Homo sapiens: one gene and its partners. The protein of the gene in region 2 purifies or fractionates together with the protein of the main gene of each other region. This does not show direct contact. Each region holds a gene or a part of one and is shown on either strand. Other genes may lie near its edges. The genes, in order: STX5, CSGALNACT2, KIAA2013, SLC30A6, MCOLN1, TMEM214 and TMX4.

Region 1 (3,500 bases), on a different chromosome or scaffold from region 2:
TGCATAAATAAATAAAGTTAAATGTATTTGGCCAGTTGTGATGGCTCACACCTGTAATCCCGGCACTTTGGGAGGCCAAGGTGGACAGGTTACTGGAGGCCAGGAGTCCAAGACCAGCCTGGCCAATGTGGCAAAACTCTGTCTCTACTAAAAATACAAAAAGTAGCCGGGCATGGCGGTGCACACCTGTGGTCCCAGGTACTCGGGAGACTGAGGCATGAGAATCACTTGAACCTAGGAGGTGGAGGTTGCAGTGAGCCAAGATCATGCCACTGCACTCCAGCCTGGGCGACACAGCAAGGCTCTGTCTCAAACACAGAAAAACTAACCCCTGCAATGGCTCCCTATGTCACTCAGAGTAAAAGCTAAAGCCTACCAATGGTCCCAAGAGGTCTCACAGTTCCCCTCTGACCACACCTTGTACAACTCTCTTCCTCATTGATCCCAGCTGCAGTAGTCTCTGCTGTCCTTTAACTCATCAAACATATTGTCACCTGCGGGCCTTTGCCAGGGTCTATGTAGCTAATTTCCTCACCTTCTCCCAAGTGTGATGCCACCTTCTTAATAGGGCCTACCTCCCTCCAAACCTGGCACTCCTGATTAGTTTATCCTGTGTTGACTATCTTTTTTTTTTTTTTTGGCATTTACGACCTTTTTTTTTTTTAACATACTATTTATTATGACTTTTTCACATCTATCTCCCTATTAGGATACACGTTCCACAAGGGCAAGGATTTTGTCTCTTTTGTCCACTGCTATATTCCCATAACTGACTGACTGAATGCTAAGCACCACAGAGGAGGAGCAGATAAAAACTCTTGTAGTAGCAGGAGGCACCAGAGGAACAGAGAGGCCAGCCCATTGTTGGGCCTCTGCCTACATCCCTCCAGTACACCCTGTACTTCTCTATCCCTGTTCATTACTTTCTAGCCACGCAGGCCTTCTTGATTCTTGCTATGGTGAGACTGTCCCATCACAAGGCTTTGCTCTAGCTGTCTCCTCGGCCTAGAACACTCTCTGTTCTTTGCCTGGTTGGATCCCTCTTGTCATTCAAGTCTCTGCTTAAATGTCATGTCTTCAGAGCAGCATTCCCTACCACACAATCTGATATACCTACTTAGTCACTTTCTTTTTTTTTTTTGAGATGGGGTCTTGCTCTGTCACTCAGACTGGAGCGCAGTGGTTCCATCATGGCTCACTGCAGCCTCAACCTCCCATGCTTAAGTCATCCTCCCGCCTCAGCCTCCCGAGTAGCTGGAACCACAGGCACACGCAACCATGTCCAGCTAATTTTTTTATTTTTGTAGAGATGGGGTTTCACCATGTTGCCCAGGCTGGTCTTGAACTCCTGAGTTCAACTGACTGTGTGGGCCTCCCAAAGTGCTGGAATTACAGGTGTAAGCCACCGTACCCATCCATTACTTTCTTAACACATCATCCTATTTTAACTCTGTATACAGCCTTTATTACTCCCTGAAATTTTGTTGGTCAATTTTTTATTTTTATTTTTTTGACACAGAATCTGGCTCTGTCACCCAGGCTGGAGTGCAGTGGCACGATCTTGGCTCACTGCAACCTCTGCCTCCCAGGCTCAAGCCATCCTCCCACCTCAGCCTCTCGAGTAGCTGGGACTACAGGCCCATGCCACCATGCCCAGCTAGTTTTTGTATTTTTTTGTAGAGACAGGGTCTTGCTTTGTTGCCCAAACTGGTCTTGAATTCCTGAACTCAAGCGATCTGCATTGCTCGGCCTCCCAAAGTGCTGCCTATGGGATTACAGGTGTGAGTCACTGTGCCAGCCTTGTCAGTTCTTTTCCACAGCTGTCCTCATCTGCCCTATCAAATTCCATACACTTACACATGCTACAAAGCAGCTCCAGACAGACTTTACTGTTCTACTTGCCACTGTATCTCCCGCACCTGGAACAGTGCCTCACATGAACAGGTGCTCAATAAAAACTTGTTGGGTGGATGGAAGCAGGTGAACTGGGTCCCATGGGTGGGCAGAATTCACTCTATCTTCCAAAAGGCATCAAGCAGTCCCTGGGGACTTTAAGATGCCAATCCACGGGGAAGAGAAAGCTCCTCTGTTTGGGGCGAGAGAGTGTATCTCACCTCTGAATGGTTTCCTCCTGTTCCTTAACCATGTGTGCCAACTGCTGAAAGATGGAGCCCAACTCAACAATTGTCGACTCAATGTTCTGCATGGTGTCTGCCCGACTCTGGATGTAGGAATCCTTCAGGAGAGGGAGAGAGCACATGAGCACCAACAGCTTCTTCAGGGTCAGACCTGCATTTTTACAACCCTCCCAGCTTGCCATTCTGCCCATGGCACACTCCAAACACTCTCTCGGGAACCACAGAGGATAATGGAGAAGCTGATTCTACCTAGTTCAGAGCCTGGGTACCTGCTCGTCAATGAGCTGCAGCTGCTGGCTGGTCCGAGAGTCCATCATGTCGATGGCGACATCCTTGGAGGCATGGGACTCTGCCCCCAGAACCACAGCACCACCGCCTGGGGGAGAAAACAGGATGTGGCACACCTTAACAGTTAAAAGCAGGTTCAAAGCCCACATGCTCTGGGTTTGAATCCCAGCTCTAGCACTTACTAGCCTTGTGACCCTGGACAGGTCATTTAACCTCTCTGAGCCTCAGTTTCCTCACCTGTAAAATGGGGGATAATAATAGTTGCTTTCTCAAAGGGTGGTTGTGAAAATTAAATGAGAGAATGTGAATAAAGTGTACGAAAAAAAATTAGAAATTATCATTATTCTGAATATAACTGAATTCACCCCAACAGTGAGAATGTGGGAGTCTAAATGTGGATCACGAATCTCAACCATCTGGTTTGGCCTCTGAGAGATAAAGCCTAGAAAATTCCTTGACCTTCCACTCTCCTACCCAACCCGTGCCTTTAGAGGATGCCATCACAACCAGAGTAAGTAACCTTACCTCCCAGGGCTCCCCGTTTTACCTGTGACTTACCCAGGTGGTTAGGGGCAAGGGGCAGGGCTGACACAGGTGCCCGGGAGAACTGCTCTCTCCGGCTCCTCTGCTGCTTCAGGTTCTGGGGTTGGGGAAAAACGCAAAGGACCTGAAGCCACTAGAAAGCAGGCATGTTAAAGAGACTCCCACCATTGGCCCCATGACCCTGTAGAACTTGTCCCTTCTTCATTTCCCTCTTGGATCTTTACTCCCATATTCCTACCCCTCCTACGCAGATTGTTCTCACCTCTGTCCTCACTTCTAAAACCGATTTGAAGTCATTGGACATAGAAGCCAGTTTCGACTAGAAGAAAAGGAGAGAGGGTCAACCAAAGAAGGCTCCACATTCTTCCTCTTTGCCTCCCTCCCTTCCTCCCCAGGTCCCACCTGCAAGGAGACCACAATGGTGTTGGAGTGGGTCTGCAGGTGCCGGCCACTCTGGCTGCCCTTGGCTCTCACGAAATCCTGGAGCTGAGCAATTTGTTTGTTGAGGCTATTGATGTCCTGGTAAAAGAG
Region 2 (3,500 bases):
CTTGTCTAGTGAACTGTTACACAAAATCCCAGTATTTAATACAAATGAAAGAAGACCTGCTCTTTCTAGCGCGTCTTGGAATCACACCTTAGTCATGCATTCCCCTAAGCCTAAAGATGGCCCATGAATAATTTGTTCTAACTATCCTGCATGCTCTGTTGTCCAGGCTGAAGAGCAGTGGCACAATCTTGGCTCACTGCAGCCTCTGCCTCCCAGGCTCAAGCGATCCTCCTACCTCAATCCCCAAGTAGCTGTGACCACAGGCGTGCACCACCACACCCAGTTAATTTTTTTGTTTGTTTTGTAGAGGCGGAGCTTCATTATATTGCCTAGGCTGGTCTTGAACTCCTGGGTTCAAGCAATCTGCCCACCTTGGCCTCCCAAAGTGCTGGGATTGCAGGCGTGAGCCACCATGCCCAGCCCCTAGCTTCAGTCTTACCCAGCAAAATATAAAGTGTCAAAGAATAGTTTAATAAAGCAGGCTGAAACCTGATTCCATGTCTTCTGATTCATTTAGGGCTAGCTACCTTTCTACAGCATAGAAGTCATAGAATATATTTTATATACATTCTAGGTCCATATCACATTCGTTTTTATAACCAGCCTTTTGTTTTGGAAATCCCCCCACCTTGTCTCCTTATCATTGTAACACTTGAATAATGGAAAATCAGGAAATAACAATAAAAGGGGCGTTAAATTAAACTGATGCTCTTTTCCTTGATTTCTTGCTTAGTTAAGCAAGCAGCATTTCACTATTCCTCAAAAATAGATTTGTGTACATTTTTTCAGTATCTTGAATGCTTTGAGTTCCTTATCTCTTTTTTATGACAATTTTATTGAGATATAGTTTACATATCATAAAATTTATTAATTTAAAGTGTACGGTTAACCAGGTCATGTAGCTATCACCACCATCAAATTTAGAGCATTTCACCCCAAAAAGAAATCCCATACCCATTAACAATCACTCCTCACATCCTACCAACCCTCTTTCCCCCCAAACTTAGGCATCTACTGGTCTACTTCCTATAGATTTGCCTCTTCTGGGAATTTAATAGAAAGCAAATTGTACAATATGTGGCCTTTTATGACTGGCTTCTTTCACTCACATAATGTTTTCAAAGTTCATCCATGTTGTGACATGTTAGGTACTTCATTCCTTTTTATAGCCAAAAAATGTTCTATTGTGTGGTTATACCACATTTTGTTTCTCCATTTGTCAGTTTATATGCATTTGAGTTGTTTCTACTTTTTGGCTATTATAAATACTGCTGCTGTGAACATTTGTGTTTAACTTTTTGGGTGGACATAGATTTTCAATTCTCTTGGACATATGCCCAGGACTCTGGCTGGGTCATATGGTAATCCTGTGTTTGACCTTTTGAGAAATTGCCACACCGTTTTCCAAAGTGGCTGCATCATTTTACATTCCCACCAGCAGTGTTTAGGAGTTCCAGTTTCCCCACATCCTCATTAATACATGTTATTATCTTTTTGTTTCTAGTATCACCCATGATAGTGGATGTGGTATTGATTGTGACTCTGATTATAATTTTTCTTATGATTAATGTTGTTGAGCATCTCTTGATGTGTTTATTGGCCATTTGTATATCTTTAGTGAAATGTCTGTTCAGATCCTTTGCCCATTTTAATTGGGTTATGGAGTTTCTTGGGCTTCTTGAATATGTACATTAATGTTTTTCATCAAATTTGGGAAGTTTCAGCCATTATAGTCATCTCTCAGTACCTGCATGGGATTGGATCCAGGATACCATGTGGAACCAAAATCCATGGTCGATCAAGTCCCTTATGTAAATATACATATTTTCATATTACCTGTGCATATCTGCCCATATACTTTAAACCATCTCTAGATTGCTTATAATACCTAATACAGGCCAGGCACGGTGGCTCACGCCTGTAATCCCAGCACTTTGGGAGGCCGAGGCGGGCAGATCACGAGGTCAGGAGATCAAGATCATCCTGGCTAACAAGGTAAAACCCTGTCTCTACTAAAAATACAAAAATTAGCCAGGCGTGGTGGCAGGCGCCTGTAGTCCCAGCTACTTGGGAGGCTGAGGCAGGAGAATGGCATGAACCTGGGAGGCGGAGTTTGCAGTGAGCCGAGATTGCACCACTGCACTCCAGCCTGGGCAACAGAGTGAGACTCCATCAAAAAAAAAAAAAAAAAACCCTAATACAATGTAAATACTATGTAAATAGTTGTTATATTGTATTTAAATTTTTATATTTATTGTTATTTTTTATCGTTTTTTTCCCTAATATTTTTGAACCATGTTGGTTGATTCTATGGGATGTGGAACTCATGCATATGGAGGGCTGACTGTATTTCTTTGAATACTTTTTCTGCTCCATTCTCATAGTTTTCTCCTTTGACACTCACTGTATGTATGTTGGTACATTTAATGGTATCCCACATTTTTCTTAGGCTCTGTTTATTTCTCTTCATTCTTTTCTCCCTCTGTTCTTCAGATTGCATAATTTCTATTGATCTATCCAAGTTCTCTGATTGTTTTTTCTGTTAGATCTACTGTTGAGCTACTCTAATGAATTTTTATTTCAGTTACTATAGTTTTTAACTTCAGAATTTCTATGTGGTTCTTTTGATATATATATAATTTCTTTATTAATACTCTATGTGATGAAACATTGTCATCTTCTGTTACTTCCTTAAGTGTGACTTCTTTTAATTCTTTGAACATACTTACAATGGCTGCTTTGGAATTTTTGTGTATTAAAGCTAATGTCTGGGCCCTAACACAGGCAGTTTTTGTTGCTTGCCGGTTTTTTTTTTTTTTTTAAGCGTATGTCACATCTTCTTGTTTCTTTGCATTCCTCATTATTTCTTTTTCGAAAACTAGACATTTTAGGTAATACACTGTGGCAACTCTGGATACTGATTTCCCTCTACCACCACGGCTTGGTTTTTTTTTTTCCTTGTTTATTTATTTATTGACATGGCTGGACTATTTTAACAAATTATTTCTTCCTCCTTCCCCGACCTTTTGGCAATATGAAGCCTCTGCTGTTGCTCCTCAGGGCCTGTGCAGTTATCCTAGGATGGCATTGGATTTAGCAGGGCTCTCTTTATCTCTTTCCATGCCTCCATTGGTATCACTCCTATTAGACTCCACTGACTGTTCACTAATTGCTGTCTTGTTTTTGACAATGCTCTGGGGCATAAATTGCTCCATAATCTGTCCCTACTAAATTGGGCCCTTTTGCAGGGATAGTTTTTGCAGCAAGTCTTTGAGATTTGTTCAGACCCCAGGAGGTATATTCTTACTATCTCTCTCTGTGGTTCTCTCTAGTAAATTAGCTGGCCTACAGTTTAGCTGTTGCCCTCCTGGAGTTACCAGCCTCCTCTTAATTGCTTACTACCAAAATCTCCATTATTTTCAAGAGGCTGGAACTTCTCTAAACTCTGAACTTCTCTACATTCTATTTTAAATAAAGTCAGTTCCTTAGGGAAGAACTTT
Region 3 (2,168 bases), on a different chromosome or scaffold from region 2:
ATGCTAAGATGCTGCCCCGATGACAGTCTTGCAGCAATGATGGCCAAAATCACCGCTTCCAGGGGCAAACATGTCTCAGGAAACTTGAGGGCAATGCTTCTGTCCTGTGTCCTATGCTAACGAGATGGCCACTCTGGTCCGAGGCCTGGAGCAAGGGGCTGACCTCTGCATGCCATGAACAGGCACATGGGGGGAAGCTGGGGATCCCGCCAGCAGTTCAGACAGAGGCTTCAAGTCAATCTAGGGGCTTGTTGCAGTTATTTTTATTTTATTATTATTATTATTTATTATTTATTTTTTATTTTTTTGAGACAGAGTCTCACTCTGTCACCCAGGCTGGAGTGCACTGGCATGATCTCGGGTCACTGCAACCTCCGTCTCCCGGGTTCAAGCAATTCTCCTGCCTCAGCCTCCCGAGTAGCTGGAATTACAGGCATGCACCACCATGCCCAGCTAATTTTTGTATTTTTAGTACAGATGGGGTTTCACCGTGTTGGCCAGGCTGGTCTTGAACTCCTGACCTCAGGTGATCTGCCCGCCTCAGCCTCCCAAAGTACTGGGATTATAGGCATGAGCCACTGCACCCAGCCTCATTATTATTATTTTTAGACAGGGTCTCACTCTGTCACCTGGGATGGAGTGCAATGGTGTAATCACAGCTCACTGCAGTCTCAAACTCCTGGGCTCAAGTGATCCTCCCACCTCAGCCTCCTAAGTAGCTGGGACTACAAGCGTGCACCATCACGCCTGGCTGATTTTTAAATTTTTTGTAGAGACAAGTCCTCGTTATCCTGCCCAGGCTGGTCTCAAACTACTGGGCTCGAAGGATCCTCCCACCTCGGCCTCCCAAAGTGTTGAGATTATAGGCATGAGCCACCAGGCCCTGCCTCTAATTTTTTTTTTTTTTTTTTTTTTACTTTTATTTGCTTTTTTGTTTTTTGCTTTTTTGAGACAGGGTCTTGCTCTGTTGCCCCAGCTAGAGTGCAATGACACAATCATAGTTCACTGCAGCCTCAAACTCCTGGGCTCAAGGGATTCTCCCATCTCAGCCTCCCAAGTAGCTGGGACTACAGGCACAAGCCACCACACCCAGCTTGCAGTTATTTTTAAATGCTGAGATTTATGATGCGGGAGGAGGGGAGGGCTGCCCTGGAAAGCCAGAAGACCATCAATTCACACCTGGATTTCCAGCTTTCCCTTCCTCGTCGTCTCCTCTCAAAACACTTGTGCGCGCTCTCTGGTGTCAAGGGCTGAGGGCATCAGGACACCCATTCCTGCCCAGGCCTCACCCCCCCTCGCCAGGCTAGCCCCTTCCGAGACACAGGGCTGAGAGCAAGGCCAAGGCCTCGGGTTTCGACCAGATGGCGGCTTCCTACCTTACTCCTGAAGAGGGGCTTGGCTCCAGGCCCACAGTACTCGTTGTAGATGAGCTTGAAGAGGAAGAGGTGGAAGAGGGTGATTAGGGAGGCCACGCTGAACCAGAAGAGGAAGGGCAGCCCGGGGTCCTGCTGGGCCATGTGCTCATCATGGGCCAGGATGGCCTTGAGGTGCAGCGTGTGCCGCAGGTCCTGCAGGTGTGTGAGGTCGGTGGAGATGTAGAGCAGTGGCGTGATGGGCTGTGTCACCATGACCGAGAAGGTGTGGCCCGTGGGCGCCGAGGTCAGCTCCACTGGCTCGTCCAGGCAGCCTGCCTTGCAGGCATAGATCTTGACAGGCTGGCCACGGGACTCCACGGACACGTGTAGGTAGGGCTTGCCCTCGGCATCCGCCAGCACGGCCAGGTTGATATGGTCGTTCTTGTAGCGGATGCCATGCAATGCATAGCTGTTGTGCAGCACGTCGGGGTCGGCCTGGAACTGGAGGTGGTTCTCTGTGAACTGCAGCCCCCCAAAGCTGAGCACCATCCCCTGCAGGATGCCTGGGGCACCCACCTTCACCAGCCCCTTGCAGCCACGCTTCTGGAGGGTCAGCCTCCACAGGTCAGAGAGCTGCAGGATCTGCTGGACGGAGGACAGCCGCCCCGGCCACAGGTTCTCGGCGTGCATGGTGGCGTGCCCGCTGAAGCAGTGATCTTCATAGTTGAGCGTCGACTCCATCTGGTCTCGCTCCCTGTGGCTCAGGGAGGGGCTGAGCAGTGGGGCTGGCGAGCAGGAGAGCATGTAATAGAG
Region 4 (3,500 bases), on a different chromosome or scaffold from region 2:
TTATCATTTCCCTCCTTTTTGTTCTTTTTTTTTTGAGATGGAATCTTGCTAAATTATCCAGGCTGGTCTTGAACTCCTGGGCTCAAGGGATCCTCCTTCCTCAGCCTCTTGAGTAGCTGGGATTACAGGGGTACACCACCACTCCCAGCTAGTATCATTTTCTTTTATATGTTCTCAACTCTTTTGTGCTCCCCTTCCCTCTGTCTTAATTCCTGGAAAATCCCTAACCTTCATTAAGTTCACTTTCTTTCTACTCTACTTGCATCTAAGCAACTGAATGTAACCTGAGAGAAACAAAACCATGCGACTGGTCTCACTTTGAATTCATGATCAGACAGACCATTAGTGCTGCCTATTAAGTGCTGCCTATTAGTGCTCTTTCATTTTATATTTCCTTTGTTCATTCAATTTTCCAATTTCCTAGATGGCTGTTTCATACGATGTTCTTTCGTTTCTATCCTCAAGCTTCTAATACCTTCTTCATCCTCACCCTAACCTGATGATCTTGCTTCCTGTTTCACCAAGGGAAAAGAAGTAATCAGAAGAAAACTTCTACATCCTATCATTAGCACATCAGCCATCACTCCGCCTTCCCTCCTATTTCTCTGGACAAGCTTTCAGTTCTTCTCTATAAAGGCAATCCTTTCACTTGTTGCCTACTGAAAGATGATGTCCCTATAATTGTTCTGTTTCTTACATCATTGTTTTTCTTGCATCATGCATCATTCTCCTCTTTCTTGCATCGTAATTACATGTTATAAGTTCCACTCTCAGGGCTGCTTCATTTCTCAGCTTCCTTTTGTAGCAAACCTACTTGAAAGAATTATCAGTACATTGTGTTCACCTTCTCTTCTCCTCATCTTTATTAAACACATACCAGTTAGGTACTTGTGCCCACTAATTCACATAAACAGCTTTTACAAGGTAACCAAAAATCTCTGTGTTGCCAAAATGAAGATTTTTCCTTATTTCTCACCTTACTTGGTTGATGTTGAACAGCCAAAGTCAGTACTTTTTTTTTTTTTTTTGAGACAGAGTCTCGCTCTGTCGCCCAGGCTGGAGTGCAGTGGCACAATCTCATCTTACTGCAACCTCTGCTTCCCTGGTTCAAGCGATTCTCCTGCCTCAGCCTCCCAAGTAGCTGGAAATAGAGGTGCCTGCCACCACACCTGGTTGATTTTTTGTTTTAGTAGAGACGGGGTTTCACCATGTTGGCTAGGCTGATCTTGAACTCCTGACCTCCACCCACCTTGGCCTCCCAAAGTGCTGGGATTGCAGGAGTGAGCCATTGCACCTGGACAAGATTACTAACTTTTAGGAACATCATCATGCCCTTTATTCAGATTCACCAGTTGCTTACATTTGGCCCCATTTGCTTCATCGTTGTCTCTATAATATGTACTTATAGAGACAAAACGATATGCATATGTATGTGTATTTTTCTCAACTATTTGAGAATTTCTATGTCAGAATTTATTTTCTCTTGAACAACTCTCCTTCTGGAACTATTCTTTTAAACTTGTATACTGTAATAACTTAGCCGATGACAATTTTGGTAGATGTAGAAAGTGTGACACAGACTTTTTGAAGGAAGTTATGTTTATTCCTTTGAATATCAGAGTATAAATTGTAGCAACTTGAACAGACCCCGTGAAATTTATCACTTCTGTACACATAAGAGTGATTTTTATTTTCACAGTCCTGGAAGATACTGCTCTTTGGTGTAATAAACTTGATATGTACTGGCTTCCTGCTTATGTGGTGCAGTTCTACTAATAGTATAGGTATGTCACCTTTGTATTTTTATGGAGTTGTTATTTTTACTTTTATTTTTCTCATTGGAAATAAAGGTATATCTTACATAGAATATATTATTCTGAAATGTATATAACTCAAATGATTTAAATAAGGGACTATATTTAAAACTTCCCTGTAAACTGTAAACTTTTGTTCATTTGTTAGGATTGTAATTTTTTTTTAAGTTTTTTTCCTTTTAAAATATATTTTAAAACAGAAATGGGGTTTCGCCATGTTGCCCAGGCTGGTCTCAAAATCCTGAGCTCAAACGATCTACCCACCTTGGCCTCCCAGAGTGCTGGGATTACAGGCGTAAGCCACAATGCCTGGCCATTTTCATTTTAAATAAGCTGTTATTTTTTGAAAAATCATTAAATCTATCTGGAGATTTTTTTTTTTTTTTTTTTTTTTTGAGACGGAGTCTCACTCTGTTGCCAGGCTGTAGTGCAGTGGTGTGATCTTGGCCCACTGCATCCTCCACCTCCCTGGTTCAAGCGATTCTCCTGCCTCAGCCTCCCAAGTAGCTGGGATTACAGGCACGTACCACCACGCCTGGCTAATTTGTGTAGTTTTGGTAGAGATGGGGTTTCACCATGTTGGCCAGGATGGTCTCGATCTCCTGACCTTATGATCCACCCGCCTCAGCCTCCCAAAGTGCTGGGATTACAGGCGTGAGCCACCGTGCCTGGCTGGAGATTTGTTTTTAATATAATAGATTAAAACTTTAATTTATGCAGTTTGTAAGTTAGATTTTGAGGTTTGTTGGCTTTTCCTTAAAAAGGGAATTCTGTAATTTTTTTCTTATATCTTTTTATGTTTTTTATTGCATTGTTCTTTTGTTCAGTTATTCAAACAATACATTTGAAATAGCGCTGAGATTACAGAAGCAGGCAGAAAAATGGTAACAGGGCTTTTGAACATTCATTGCTTCATTTTTCCTAATGGAGAAATCAGGTTGGGAAGTAAGCTTTTCTACCAACGAACTTTGGCTACATATATTTATCAGATTTACTAGATAACTGCCAATATATGAGGTTGGCCCGTGACTCAAAAGTTTTTTTGATAATGGATACCCCTGGTAGAAATAATTTTGGTAACTTGCTGTATTTTTTTAGAGGGGTCAGTAATACTTTTAATCATTTTTTTGTTGTTTTGCAGCTTTAACTGCCTATACTTACCTGACCATTTTTGATCTTTTTAGGTAAGTTTTTAGGAAATCTTAATGTTTTGGAGCTAATAAGGAACTTGGTAGAAATGTGGTATAGCCATACAATTCAGCAATAAAAACAGCAACTACTGATATCTTACAAGAAAACAATAAAAACATTATGCTTTGAAGACAGTCATAAAGGACCACATATTTTATGATTTCATTTATATGAAATGTCCAAAACAGGCAAATCTATGGAGAGAAAAAGTAGATTATGAAGAAGTTTTCTTTGCTTAAAGGAAAGTAATCTACTAAATAAGTAAAATTATCAACATAGAACAAACACACAAACAACAATAATTAGAGACATAACAGTAATTAGAGAGCAGGTGGGGCGGCTCATGCCTGCAATTCCAGCACTTTGGGAGGCCGAGGCGGGTGGATCACTTGAGGTCAGGAGTTTACGACCAGCCTGGCCAACATGGTGAAACCCCGTCTCTACTAAAAATACAAATAGCCAGGCATGGTGGTGTATGCCTGTAGTCCCAGCTAC
Region 5 (3,500 bases), on a different chromosome or scaffold from region 2:
CAGACGTCGTAGCTCGCCAAGTTCTGCGGGTGGGAGCTGCGTCAACCTATCTGGCCCAGCCCTTCCTTTGGGGGGCCTGGGGGAGGATATGGCCCCGGATAGGCACTGACAGCAGGGATGGGACCTGGGGCCCAGGGTGTTGGCAGGACGCACCTTGGCCTCGATGCCGATCTTCATGATGGTGCCCGAGATGGTGAGCACATCGCTGGTGACGAGCAGGATGTACCAGCCATTGACAAATTCCAGCCGCTCCCACAGGCTGATGACCCGTCCCCGCTGCCGCCACATGAACCCCACAAACTCCTGCAGAAGGCAGGCGGGGTGAGGGCCTGACCAGGCACAGGACCCTCAAAGCCCTGGCTTTTATCGCCCCAGGGCCAGGCGGGGAGGACACCAGCACACATGACGCAGAAGCCTCACGTTCTGCAGCAGGAAGCCTCGAAGGAGTGAGCGGGCGCAGAGGAGGAAGGACAGGGAGCAGGTGAGGATGACCACCACGTCAAACAGGAGCCGGAAGCTGTTGTCTCCTGCGGGGAGGGCAGAGCGGGTAGGGCCAAGGATGGCATGGAGCCTTGGGAGGCTAGCATTGGTGCCAGGCCAGGCTGGAGACCTAGGGGGCTGCACGGCTGGTTTTGGTTGGTCAGTGGGCTCAGGGCTTGCTTGGGGTGAGTCAAGAACCCCGGTCAGTGCTGGTCTGGGGCTTGGGGGATCTCAGCACAGGACGGGGTCCCTGGTCTGTGCTGATCTGAGGCTCAGCGGATTCCTGGGGAGGTCACGGCCCCCAGGCAGCGCTGATCTGGGGCTTGGGGAATCCCAGGACAGGCCAGGGCCCCTGGTCAGTGCTGGTCTGGGGCTCAGGGGCTCACCGTGCTGGAAGACACTGGGGTGCTTACACTCCTGGATGTGGGCCTGGGTCTCCAGGCTGATGGGGATCCGCCCACTGTGTGCTTTGTTGTCAAACGTGATCTGTGGGGGCCAGTTGGGGGCAGAGTAAACCTTGGCAGCCCCAAGCCCCAAGGTCCACATGACAGGTGGCCTGACAGACCCCGGGCTCCCTCCCTCATCACCCGCACGCTTGCCCTTGGCCAGTGCTCCCAAGACACTCCCTGACCAGGTCCCTGCCCTGGAACTCAGGAGCCCTGTGGGTTCCCGGGGGGCCTCACCAGGACGCTGAAGGTATAGCAGTCCGGGATCTCATTATTGATGAGGCTCTGGAGGTTAATGGTCTTCAGCCGGAAGTGGATGGTGACATTGACCAGCCTAGGCAGGAGGCTCGGGTGAGGGTCAGGGGCGTCTTCGGGTCCCTTCCGGCCCCAAGTGCCAGCGTCCCCTGCCACGTGCTGACTCTGCAGCTGGCAGGGGAAGTGCTCACCCAGCAGGCACCAGCGCGGGCGGGGGGGCCCTGTCCCCACCTTAGGGAAGTAGTTGCTGGGGTGAGAGTGCCTAGTGTGCTGCCTCCCCCACCCTGGGCCCCCCTCGAGTGAGCAGGCAGTACTTGTGGAATTTGAGCGTGAGGTTCTTGTAACTGGAGCTGCTTTCCAAGAGGGTGAGATCGTCGCTGGGGGGCGGAGGGGGCCGCTCGGGGGGATCCACCTGGATGCAGTCTAAGGACAGGGAGTCAGGGAAGGGCCTCAGGGGGCCGGGGAGGCCAGGCTGGTCTCCCCAGAGTCCCCAGTGGCCTTCTTCCCTGTGCTTCCCCAGGGTTGGGTCATTCCTACAGGCCTGGCACTCTCTGGGCCTGCGGATGTTTTACTGAATGAGCCATATTAAAATATAACATCTGGTGCTTTCTACGTGGCAAGAGTCACACTCACACTAAGCATACTTGTTTTTTTTTTTTTTTTTTTTTTTTGAGACAGGGTCTCACTCTGTCACCCAGGGTGGAGTGCAGCAGCGTGGTCATAGCTTACTGCAGCCTCAACCTCCCGGACTCAAGCGATCCTCCTGCCTCAGCCTCCTGAGTAGCTGGGACCACAGGGGCACGCCACCACGCCCAGCTAATTTGTTTGTGCGTAGAGACAAGGTCTTCCTACGTGGCCCAGGCTGGTCTCAAACTTCTGGCCTCAAGCAATCCTTCCTCCTCAGCCTCCCAAAGTGCTGGTATTATAGGCGTGAGCCACCGTGCCCAGCCACAGCTGTTGATTTTAATCCCAGCAGCTCAGGCTCCCAACAGTGAAGCCTCGTCCTGCCCACTCACCAGTAACCACCATCGGATCAATGTCAAATGTGTCGTTGGCCGGGTCCACGTGGCCTCGGTGGTAGTACCGCTGGCAGAGAGCAAGCCCTGAGCCATTGGTCCAAGGGTCACCCCCACCACGGACATACGCATACCGGCCCAGTGACACGTCAGGCAACGCCAGGTACTGTGGGCAGAGAAGGGGAGGGCCTGTGAGTCCGGCCCGCTCTCTGCAGCCCACCCACCTGCACCTGCCCGCCCACCAGCACCTGCCCGCCCAACTGCACCTGCCCGCCCACCTGCACCTGCCTGCCCACCAGCACCTGCCCGCCCACCAGCACCTGGTCCACAGCATGGAAGATGGCCTGGTACAGCTGCTCCCGCGTGTAGGCTGCGAAGGTGTCATCCGCTCCGTCCGAGTAGCCCAGCAGGAAGAGGTGTCGGAAGGCGATGGTGTTCTCTTCCCGGAATGTCACAGCCAGCTGATTACTGAGCCCAAACAGGATGAGCTGGGGAGAGGGTAGTAGAGGTTGGCATGGCTAGGATGGGGGTTGGGGTGTATCTCCCTCAGGGCACAGGCCCTGGAAGAGGACAGGGAGGGCCCTGCAGATGTCCACTGGGGTGGGGCAGGGCCCTGCTAACTTGGGCCACAAACACGGATTTCACTTGTGCATTTCTTTGCTTTGATTAATTTCACCCCACCTCCTGGCATAAGCTCCATGCCACGCCCACCACTGTGTCCTCCCCCGTACAACACAGGGTGGGGACTCATCTATCTCACTGCAGGGACTAACGTTCATTAAATGTTTACTGGATGTCCGATTCTGTGTTAAACCCAAACTTTCAGGGTAAGTACCATGACTGGGTCCCTTTTCTTTTCTTTTTTGAGACAGAGTCTCACTCTGTTGCCCAAGTTGGAGTGCCATGGTATGATCTCAGCTCACTACAACCTCCACCCCCTGGGTTCAAGCAATTCTCCTGTCTCAGCCTCCTGAGTAGCTGAGTTACAGGTACCTGCCACCAAACCCAGCTAATTTTTGTATTTTTAGTAGAGACGGGGTTTTGCAATGTTGGCCAGGCTGGTCTCAAACTCCTGGCCTCAAATGATCCACCCAACTCAGCCTCCCAAAGTGCTGGCATTACAGGCATGAGCCACCATGCCTGGACAATTGGGTCCCTTTTCAGAGGGAAAATTAGAGGCATGGTGACATGCTAAAGTCAGCCCAAAACATGAAGTAAGCACTTAGGGCAGTGGCTGGGTCTGATTCATCTTGGGGTTCCCAGAGCCCAGCACAGGGTCTGGCATGGGGGAGGGAGAACTATC
Region 6 (3,115 bases), on a different chromosome or scaffold from region 2:
CAGCCGAGGACCCTGAACCTGCTGCAACAGGCCCTGGTGGGAGGGGAGCAGGAGACAGTTGTCAGAAGCGAGGGGCTGGTCTTTGCCTCTGAGGGCAGACCTCAAGCCAGGCCTTCCCGAAAGAGCGTCAAGCCTTCACATTATCCTGGAGGCAGCGGGGGGCTCCAGACAGGTGGGGCAGGAATGTGATACAGGCCCAACCCAGGTGTGCTGAGACAGAGATGTAAGATAGCGTGTGGGCTGGAGAGGACCGGGTGCCAGCACCTTGCAGGCCATGTCACAGGTGACGACATCCTGGTTGTTACTGCTACCCTTCCTCAGCAGCTCCTGGTTGGTAAGCTTGAGGGACTGAATGGTTTCTTGCAAAGACTTCTGTACCTATGGACAAGAAAGGTCTGGCCTGTGAGGGAATCCAGAGCTTCCATCCTGCTTCATTTTCCATGCCAACAGGGTCCCTTCTCAGGGAAGGGACAGTGGCTGAGGAGCCCCCACTCAGAACCTAGAATCCAGACAGGGCTCAACCTGCCACGTCCTCCCAGCTCCTCACCTTCTTGGGAATCTGCTCCCAGGAGCTGAGCAAGTGCTCCAGCAGAAGGCTGTGGGGAAAGCACAACCCCCTAGTCAGGTGGCTCGCGCAGCCTCACCCATCCTCCTGTCCTCCATTAGCCCTGGCTCCTTCAGGCTGAAAGACCCTCCACCTACCACCCACAGAGCAGCAGCTTCCTAGAGGCTGCTCCAGCAATGTTCCCACTCAGCCTGAAAGGTGTCAGGCCATGGGACAGTGACCCAGGCTCCCCTTCTGCTTCTAGCACAGGGACAGGCTGGCCTCCCACCCCACCTGCCTGGACTGTGACAGGTGCTTAGGGTACAGCTGCCTCCAGACGCTGGCACTGAGGGGGTCCACCGTCAGGCACTCAGTCAGGCTGCTCAGGAGCTGCACAGCACGACAGAGGGAGAGGCTGCTGGGGGCATGGGGCTGGCAGAGGCGGGGAGTGCTAAGAGGTGATCCCCTTCCCGTAAGCAAGGCCATCCAGGCCGCACATCCACCCTAAGGGGTGGAGAAACAGTGTCAAGACTCCAGAAAGCTCTCTGAGAGGCTGTAAAGCAGGAGGCTGGGGCTCCTGAGCTAGAGCTTTGAGCTCAAAGATCACTATCTGCAAGAGACGGGCATCAGAAACCACCCAGACCTGAATGTGCTGTCTCTTGGGATCCATCTTCTGAGGGTGAAGCTCGAGTGAGCGGGGCAGGCAGCTGTCAACAGGGAGCTAAGGAAAAGCCTCAGAATGGGCTCTGTGAAGGCAAGGCCTTTGTCAGCAGATAGGGACCGCTACAGCTGACCCCTGGGGAAGGAGAAAAAGCCTCCCACCATATCCTCACCTCTTTCTTCATCTCAGGGGGACAGCTAGGGGTGGCTCTGGACAGGAAAGAAGGGAAGTAGGTATGCAGGGTGGAATCCGGCTTTGCTCCAAATGCCAGCACTTTCAGTCGGGGGTAGAGCTGACACAGCTGCTCCTGCAGGCTGGGTGGGGTGGGGAGGAAAGACAGGCATAAGCTATAAGTGGAGCTGTATGATATGAACCTTTTGCTTGCTTCAGAGCCCATGCCTGCCTGTGGGGAATAGCCACTGAGGACCTTGCAATGGCTCTGAATCTTTTTACTCAGAGACTCCTTGGAAATCTGTTGAAAGCCATGGACCCTATCCCTAAGAAAATGCCCATATGCCAATCACACTCAAGGGTCCATATAATTTCAAGGGGTCACTGTTCCCTTGAAACCTACTCTTGAACTTCCAGGTTGCAAATCTCAGATCTAGGATGGCTGGGGAAGGAGAGACGGGAATATGTAGTGTGGTTCTGGTGCTGTGGTCCCTTCTCAGCAGGTGTGCCCCAGAGCAGTCCTACCTGGGTGTCAGGGAGTTGTTCGGCATATAGGCAAAGTCCAGAAGTGGGAAGAAGTCCTTGGGGCCAATCATGCCGAAGCCCTTGGTAAGGTTGGGATGCATCCTGTGGGGATGAAGAAACAGGCTCGCTGGACACCACCACCCATGCCAGCTGTTTTGGCCATGACCCCAGCTAAGCCAACATCTAGGAAAAAGGGTATAAACTCTACCCCATCTGCCAGCCCTTAATAGCTCCCTCTTCTTCCTTCCTCACCATCACATTCTAAGGTGGTGGGAGAAGCTGGTCCTGATTTTCCTCATATCCATGGAGACCAAGATCATAGCCTCCCATTTTGCTATAACAGCCACTTGGGACACCCTGAGCCTTCCCCTTGCTGCCCTCCCATTACTCACAGGAGCAGCCGATCCAGGTATGTGATGGCAAAGGGAGACAGAGACTTGATGCCCAGCACAGGCAGCATGATCCCCAGCCACACTGCAGGGGTAAAAGTCACGAGGGAGGCCTCAGGCTTGCACCTACTGGGGGCATCAAAGAGGAGTTTTCCAGCTCCGAGACCCTCCCTCTTTCTTCCCTATTTCCCTGTTACCTTTCAGTCCCTCGGTGAGGTTGGCAAAACCTGCTTGACCCAGGGCCCACATGATGGTGAGACACTTTGCTGGTCGGCTCTGGTGGGACCTCAGCAGTTCCAGGAACTGAGGAGACCGGTGGGGAAGGCAGATTGGGATAGGACAAAACACCAGGAGCACCCCCCAAAGCCAGGAGGGAAGGGAGATGTCAACTGGAAGAGGGAGGACAGGCCGAGCAAGAGTGGAGCACTATGGCCACGTGGTGCAGGTTCTGTTTGTGGGCTTCGCCCATACTCTGCCATTTACTGGATGACTGAGCCTAGGAAAGTTACTGAACTCCTCTGTGGCTCAATCTTTTCATCTATAAAAATGGGAAATAATAGCAGTACCTTGCTCCTATGTTTCCAGAGCACACACACAGGATAGGTGCTAATAGTGTTACCCATTATTACTAGGCTTACAGGTCTTCCACTATCCCAAACCTGAGTCCAACAACATAGATTCTGCCCAGCCTCCCCAGTCCTAGCTTCCTAGCATCCCCACCATCACTGAGAGCTCACCTTGCCTAGGTTTGCCGTGGCAATCTTGGGCTTGTCTTGCAGGATGGCCTGGATACAGATGCGGTAACCATGTAGTGACTCCCCTGGA
Region 7 (3,500 bases), on a different chromosome or scaffold from region 2:
GCAAACTGTATAATACTTGGTGAGGTAGATTAGGCCAAACCATAACAGCTTTTTCCACAGTTGGTTTTAGTTTTGAATGGATTGTCATATATATAGATAATTTTATGTTAGTATATACAAGTGTAAGAAATTTCCCTACTGAAAAAGGAGCAAATCAAGCAATATTTCAGGAGTAAATCATCTAGTGGCATCTATATTAATATTAAGGAAACACATAGCTTACTCTAAAAACAACTCTCACATTTCATTCTACAACCATTTGAGCACTGATTTAGCCAGATACTTTCCTAGGTGCTAGGTATTCAACACTGAACAAGACAGACATTCACCTCAGGTACAGAGAATCATAGTTGGGATGAGGGTGGATAAAAAACACAACAACATATTTTACAAAGATGGGATAGCTCTGGGGTTATGGACCTGCTCTTCTAGATGGAGGGAGTAGGAGACATTTCTCTGAAGGGACGCCTCTAGGTGAGATCTGAATGATAGAAGGAACTAGCTTAGGCAAAGAGCAGAGGGAAGATTATTCCCAGGAATGGGTATGGCATATGCATAAGCCCCAGTTTGGAAAGGAGCTTGGTGTACTTAAGGAGCAGAATGGTGACCAGGGTCAAGCATAGTGAAAGGGAATGTAGGATGAGCTGAGTAAGAGGGGCAGGCTGAAGCCAGGTCATGCAGGGCCTGTGGCCACAGGAAAGAAGTTGGAAGTGATCAGCACACACAAGGAGAAGGTGACCCTTAGGAGAGGAGATTGGAGAGGGCAAGAATGGATGAAGTGAGTTGAGGCTTAGAGTGGTAGCTTGTGTCAGGTGGCAGCAGTGGGGATGTGGGGATGGAGAGGCTGAGTGGATTTTAAATATGTTATGAAGGTAGGCTTGGCCAAGGTGAAGGAGAAGAAGGATTCATTAATAAAAACTTACAAGTTTCTGGTTTGAGTACATGATGGATCTTGGTACTTGTTATTGCCTTGGGCAAGAGAAAATTAAGGATTCTGTATAAATCTTGTTGGGTTTGAGATGCAGACTTTGTAGAACTGTCACAGTGGATGCTGTATTAGTCCATTCTTGCATTGCTATAAAGGAATACTTGAGACTGGGTAATTTATAAAGAAAAGATGTTTAATTGGCTCATGGTTCTACAGGCTGTACAGGAAGGATGATGCTGGCATCTGCTTGGCTTCTGGGGAGGCTTCAGGAAACTTATAATCATGGTGGAAGGCGAAGGGGAAGCACATAACATCACATGGCCAGAGTAGGAGCAAGAGAGAAGGATGGAGGTGCCACACACTGTTAAACAACCAAATCTCCTGAGAGATCACTCATTATCAAGAGAATAGCACCAAGTGGATGGTGCTAAACTATTCATGAGAATCCGCCCCCATGATCCACTCTCTTTCCACCAGACCCCACCTCCAGCATTAGGGATTACAATTTGTTAGGAATAATGCTTACAATTTTAAGAAATTGAACACTTGAACAAAGGATATTTAGCAAAGCAATTTTATTTTTGCGCAGAGAGGTGCCTTTTTGGCCAGTCGCCATGAGAGCACACTTGAACAAAGGAGTACGAGAGCCTTTATTTTTGACGCAAGTCTTGCCCCTGTATCCTTTTTTTATTGGCTGGGGTCAGGTGTATAAACTAATTTTAGTTGGCTAAACATTTGAATTTTTTTAGATAAGGTGGGCACATAGAAGAAAGAGGAAAGGGGAAAGGGTGTCTGTAGTGAGTCAGAAAGTTGTTTTTTTTTTTTTAAATAAGGAAAGGAATGTGAGTTGGTACTGATAATGGCTGGTATTGTGGCATGCCTGCGCATTTAACAAAGGCAGAAAGGAAAAAGGAAAAAAAGAGGGGGTGGTTAACTCTGAATTAAAAGATTGATTAGGCTATTTGAAGGGAAACCTTATCATATCTCACAAATTGAACATACGATTTGGGTGGGGATACAGATTCAAAGCATATCAGATGCATGGAAATGGGTCCCCATGAAGAATTCAGGAACACAAAAAAACCTACAGACAATGTTGAGGTGAGGGGAACACCTAGAAAGAAGGAAAAAGAGAAGAGTACTTGGGGATGAGTCATGGGCCACCCCCAAATTAAGAAACTGTGTTGAGAAGTCAGCCAAAGGAAACTGAAAATGAGTACCAGAGAGGCAACATGAAAACCAAGGTCTGCCATTTTCCAGAAGCCAAATGAGTGTTCAAGAAGAAGGGCGTAGTCTCTTGTATCCCATGTTACTAAGAGGCGAAGGGAGATCAGGTCTGAGACATGGACATTGAATGAAACATGGTGAGGTCATCATGGCCTTGACAATCTGTTCCTGTAGTGGTGAGGGTGGAAGCCAGATTTTAATCGATTAAAGGTACAGTAGAGAAGAAACAGCATGTGTAGAGTAATCTGGAGAAATTTATCTGTGAAGCTGGAGGGTCATGTGAGGTCCAGGGATACTCTTTTTAAAGGGTAAAAGAGAGTAGAGCATGTTCATATGCCAGTGAGACTGTTCTAGGAGAGAGAGAGAAGTTGCTCGTGCAGGAAGGGAGGATGAGAGAAAGAACCAAGTCCTAATAAGACAAAATGGATAGGATCCAAGGCACAAGTGGAGGAATTGGACTGTGATAAGAGAGTTAGACTTTTCCTGTCATAACAAGAGAAGGTGGATGCAGGTGGACACCAGGCTCAGATTTGGTAGTGGGAAGATGAGAGAAAGCACATGGTGGCTTCTGATTTCACAGTGACATATGAGGAGTGCTTGTTAGCTGAGTACATGGGGATGGGAAGATGTGTACGTTTTGAAGAGAAGGAAAAGGAAATGAGCTATTTTCTTAGAGCTTAGAAAGTGCTGGACAGTATTACGTGTCCACTTAGGTTTGGGACTATGAAGCAGAAAGAACTGTCATCTGGTTATGTGATGTTTTTTCCCTGGAGACATTCAGCTGCTCAGTGTTGAGATTTTTGCCGGGTAGGCACAATGAAAGGAGAAAGGGCCAAGGAGTTGGAATAGATTTACAGCAGAGTGATTCAAATGATAGCCACTGAATCTAAGCTCTGTAAGAACAGATATGAATCTGGGAGAGGGGGCAATATTTAGCAAGAAGTGGAGGGAAATAGACCAGTCCTCCTGACCTGATTTTCATTTTTTTTTTATAGTATATATGATCACTGTTTCTTCTCTTTATTTTTTTTTAAGGATGTCTGGAATGGCTGGTCTTTTTAGCATCTCTGGCAAGATATGGGTAAGTAATCTTAAATAAAACGTTTATATTTGCAGAGAGGTTAAGAATAAAAATACAGCTTTTAAGCAATAGGAAAACAAACATTTATAAGTACATTTATAATTTCACTTTTTTTCTTAAGCCATGCAACTACTCTCATGTGGGGTTTCCAGTGGTAATGTCGTCATGTAGAAGGGCATAATCTGAACAGTAACCTGTAACTACTGTGTCGAGGTCTTATTTTCTTAAATCAGTGGTGAAGTCTTTCATCCAAGCAAAACGGCT

The links.
Region 1: the proteins of CSGALNACT2 (region 2) and STX5 purify together in Homo sapiens (co-immunoprecipitation; 3 studies listed by BioGRID and IntAct, with this or other methods). This does not show direct contact.
Region 3: the proteins of CSGALNACT2 (region 2) and KIAA2013 purify together in Homo sapiens (co-immunoprecipitation; 3 studies listed by BioGRID and IntAct, with this or other methods). This does not show direct contact.
Region 4: the proteins of CSGALNACT2 (region 2) and SLC30A6 purify together in Homo sapiens (affinity purification with mass spectrometry; 2 studies listed by BioGRID and IntAct, with this or other methods). This does not show direct contact.
Region 5: the proteins of CSGALNACT2 (region 2) and MCOLN1 purify together in Homo sapiens (affinity purification with mass spectrometry; 2 studies listed by BioGRID and IntAct, with this or other methods). This does not show direct contact.
Region 6: the proteins of CSGALNACT2 (region 2) and TMEM214 purify together in Homo sapiens (co-immunoprecipitation; 3 studies listed by BioGRID and IntAct, with this or other methods). This does not show direct contact.
Region 7: the proteins of CSGALNACT2 (region 2) and TMX4 purify together in Homo sapiens (co-immunoprecipitation; 3 studies listed by BioGRID and IntAct, with this or other methods). This does not show direct contact.

What each region holds. Positions count from the first base shown.
Region 1 is NC_000011.10:62,822,052-62,825,551, forward strand, and holds part of STX5 (syntaxin-5), read right to left. Parts: intron 3,489-3,500; coding exon 3,372-3,488; intron 3,289-3,371; coding exon 3,232-3,288; intron 3,067-3,231; coding exon 2,985-3,066; intron 2,515-2,984; coding exon 2,408-2,514; intron 2,237-2,407; coding exon 2,115-2,236; intron 1-2,114. UniProt on the Homo sapiens protein: Mediates endoplasmic reticulum to Golgi transport.
Region 2 is NC_000010.11:43,176,445-43,179,944, forward strand, and holds part of CSGALNACT2 (chondroitin sulfate N-acetylgalactosaminyltransferase 2), read left to right. Parts: intron 1-3,500. UniProt on the Homo sapiens protein: Transfers 1,4-N-acetylgalactosamine (GalNAc) from UDP-GalNAc to the non-reducing end of glucuronic acid (GlcUA). Required for addition of the first GalNAc to the core tetrasaccharide linker and for elongation of chondroitin chains.
Region 3 is NC_000001.11:11,921,260-11,923,427, forward strand, and holds part of KIAA2013 (uncharacterized protein KIAA2013 precursor), read right to left. Parts: coding exon 1,377-2,168; intron 1-1,376.
Region 4 is NC_000002.12:32,172,364-32,175,863, forward strand, and holds part of SLC30A6 (zinc transporter 6), read left to right. Parts: intron 1-1,699; coding exon 1,700-1,784; intron 1,785-2,955; coding exon 2,956-2,998; intron 2,999-3,500. UniProt on the Homo sapiens protein: Has probably no intrinsic transporter activity but together with SLC30A5 forms a functional zinc ion:proton antiporter heterodimer, mediating zinc entry into the lumen of organelles along the secretory pathway.
Region 5 is NC_000019.10:7,525,624-7,529,123, reverse strand, and holds part of MCOLN1 (mucolipin-1), read right to left. Parts: intron 2,686-3,500; coding exon 2,518-2,685; intron 2,364-2,517; coding exon 2,198-2,363; intron 1,605-2,197; coding exon 1,496-1,604; intron 1,261-1,495; coding exon 1,164-1,260; intron 967-1,163; coding exon 867-966; intron 528-866; coding exon 421-527; intron 304-420; coding exon 154-303; intron 24-153; coding exon 1-23. UniProt on the Homo sapiens protein: Nonselective cation channel probably playing a role in the regulation of membrane trafficking events and of metal homeostasis. Acts as a Ca(2+)-permeable cation channel with inwardly rectifying activity.
Region 6 is NC_000002.12:27,035,965-27,039,079, reverse strand, and holds part of TMEM214 (transmembrane protein 214), read right to left. Parts: intron 3,111-3,115; coding exon 3,028-3,110; intron 2,594-3,027; coding exon 2,488-2,593; intron 2,376-2,487; coding exon 2,294-2,375; intron 2,004-2,293; coding exon 1,902-2,003; intron 1,520-1,901; coding exon 1,378-1,519; intron 1,291-1,377; coding exon of another isoform or gene 1,279-1,290; exon of another isoform or gene 1,266-1,278; coding exon of another isoform or gene 1,188-1,265; intron 1,049-1,187; coding exon of another isoform or gene 935-1,048; coding exon 843-934; intron 597-842; coding exon 548-596; intron 379-547; coding exon 265-378; intron 34-264; coding exon 1-33. UniProt on the Homo sapiens protein: Critical mediator, in cooperation with CASP4, of endoplasmic reticulum-stress induced apoptosis. Required or the activation of CASP4 following endoplasmic reticulum stress.
Region 7 is NC_000020.11:7,995,762-7,999,261, reverse strand, and holds part of TMX4 (thioredoxin-related transmembrane protein 4 precursor), read left to right. Parts: intron 1-3,190; coding exon 3,191-3,236; intron 3,237-3,500.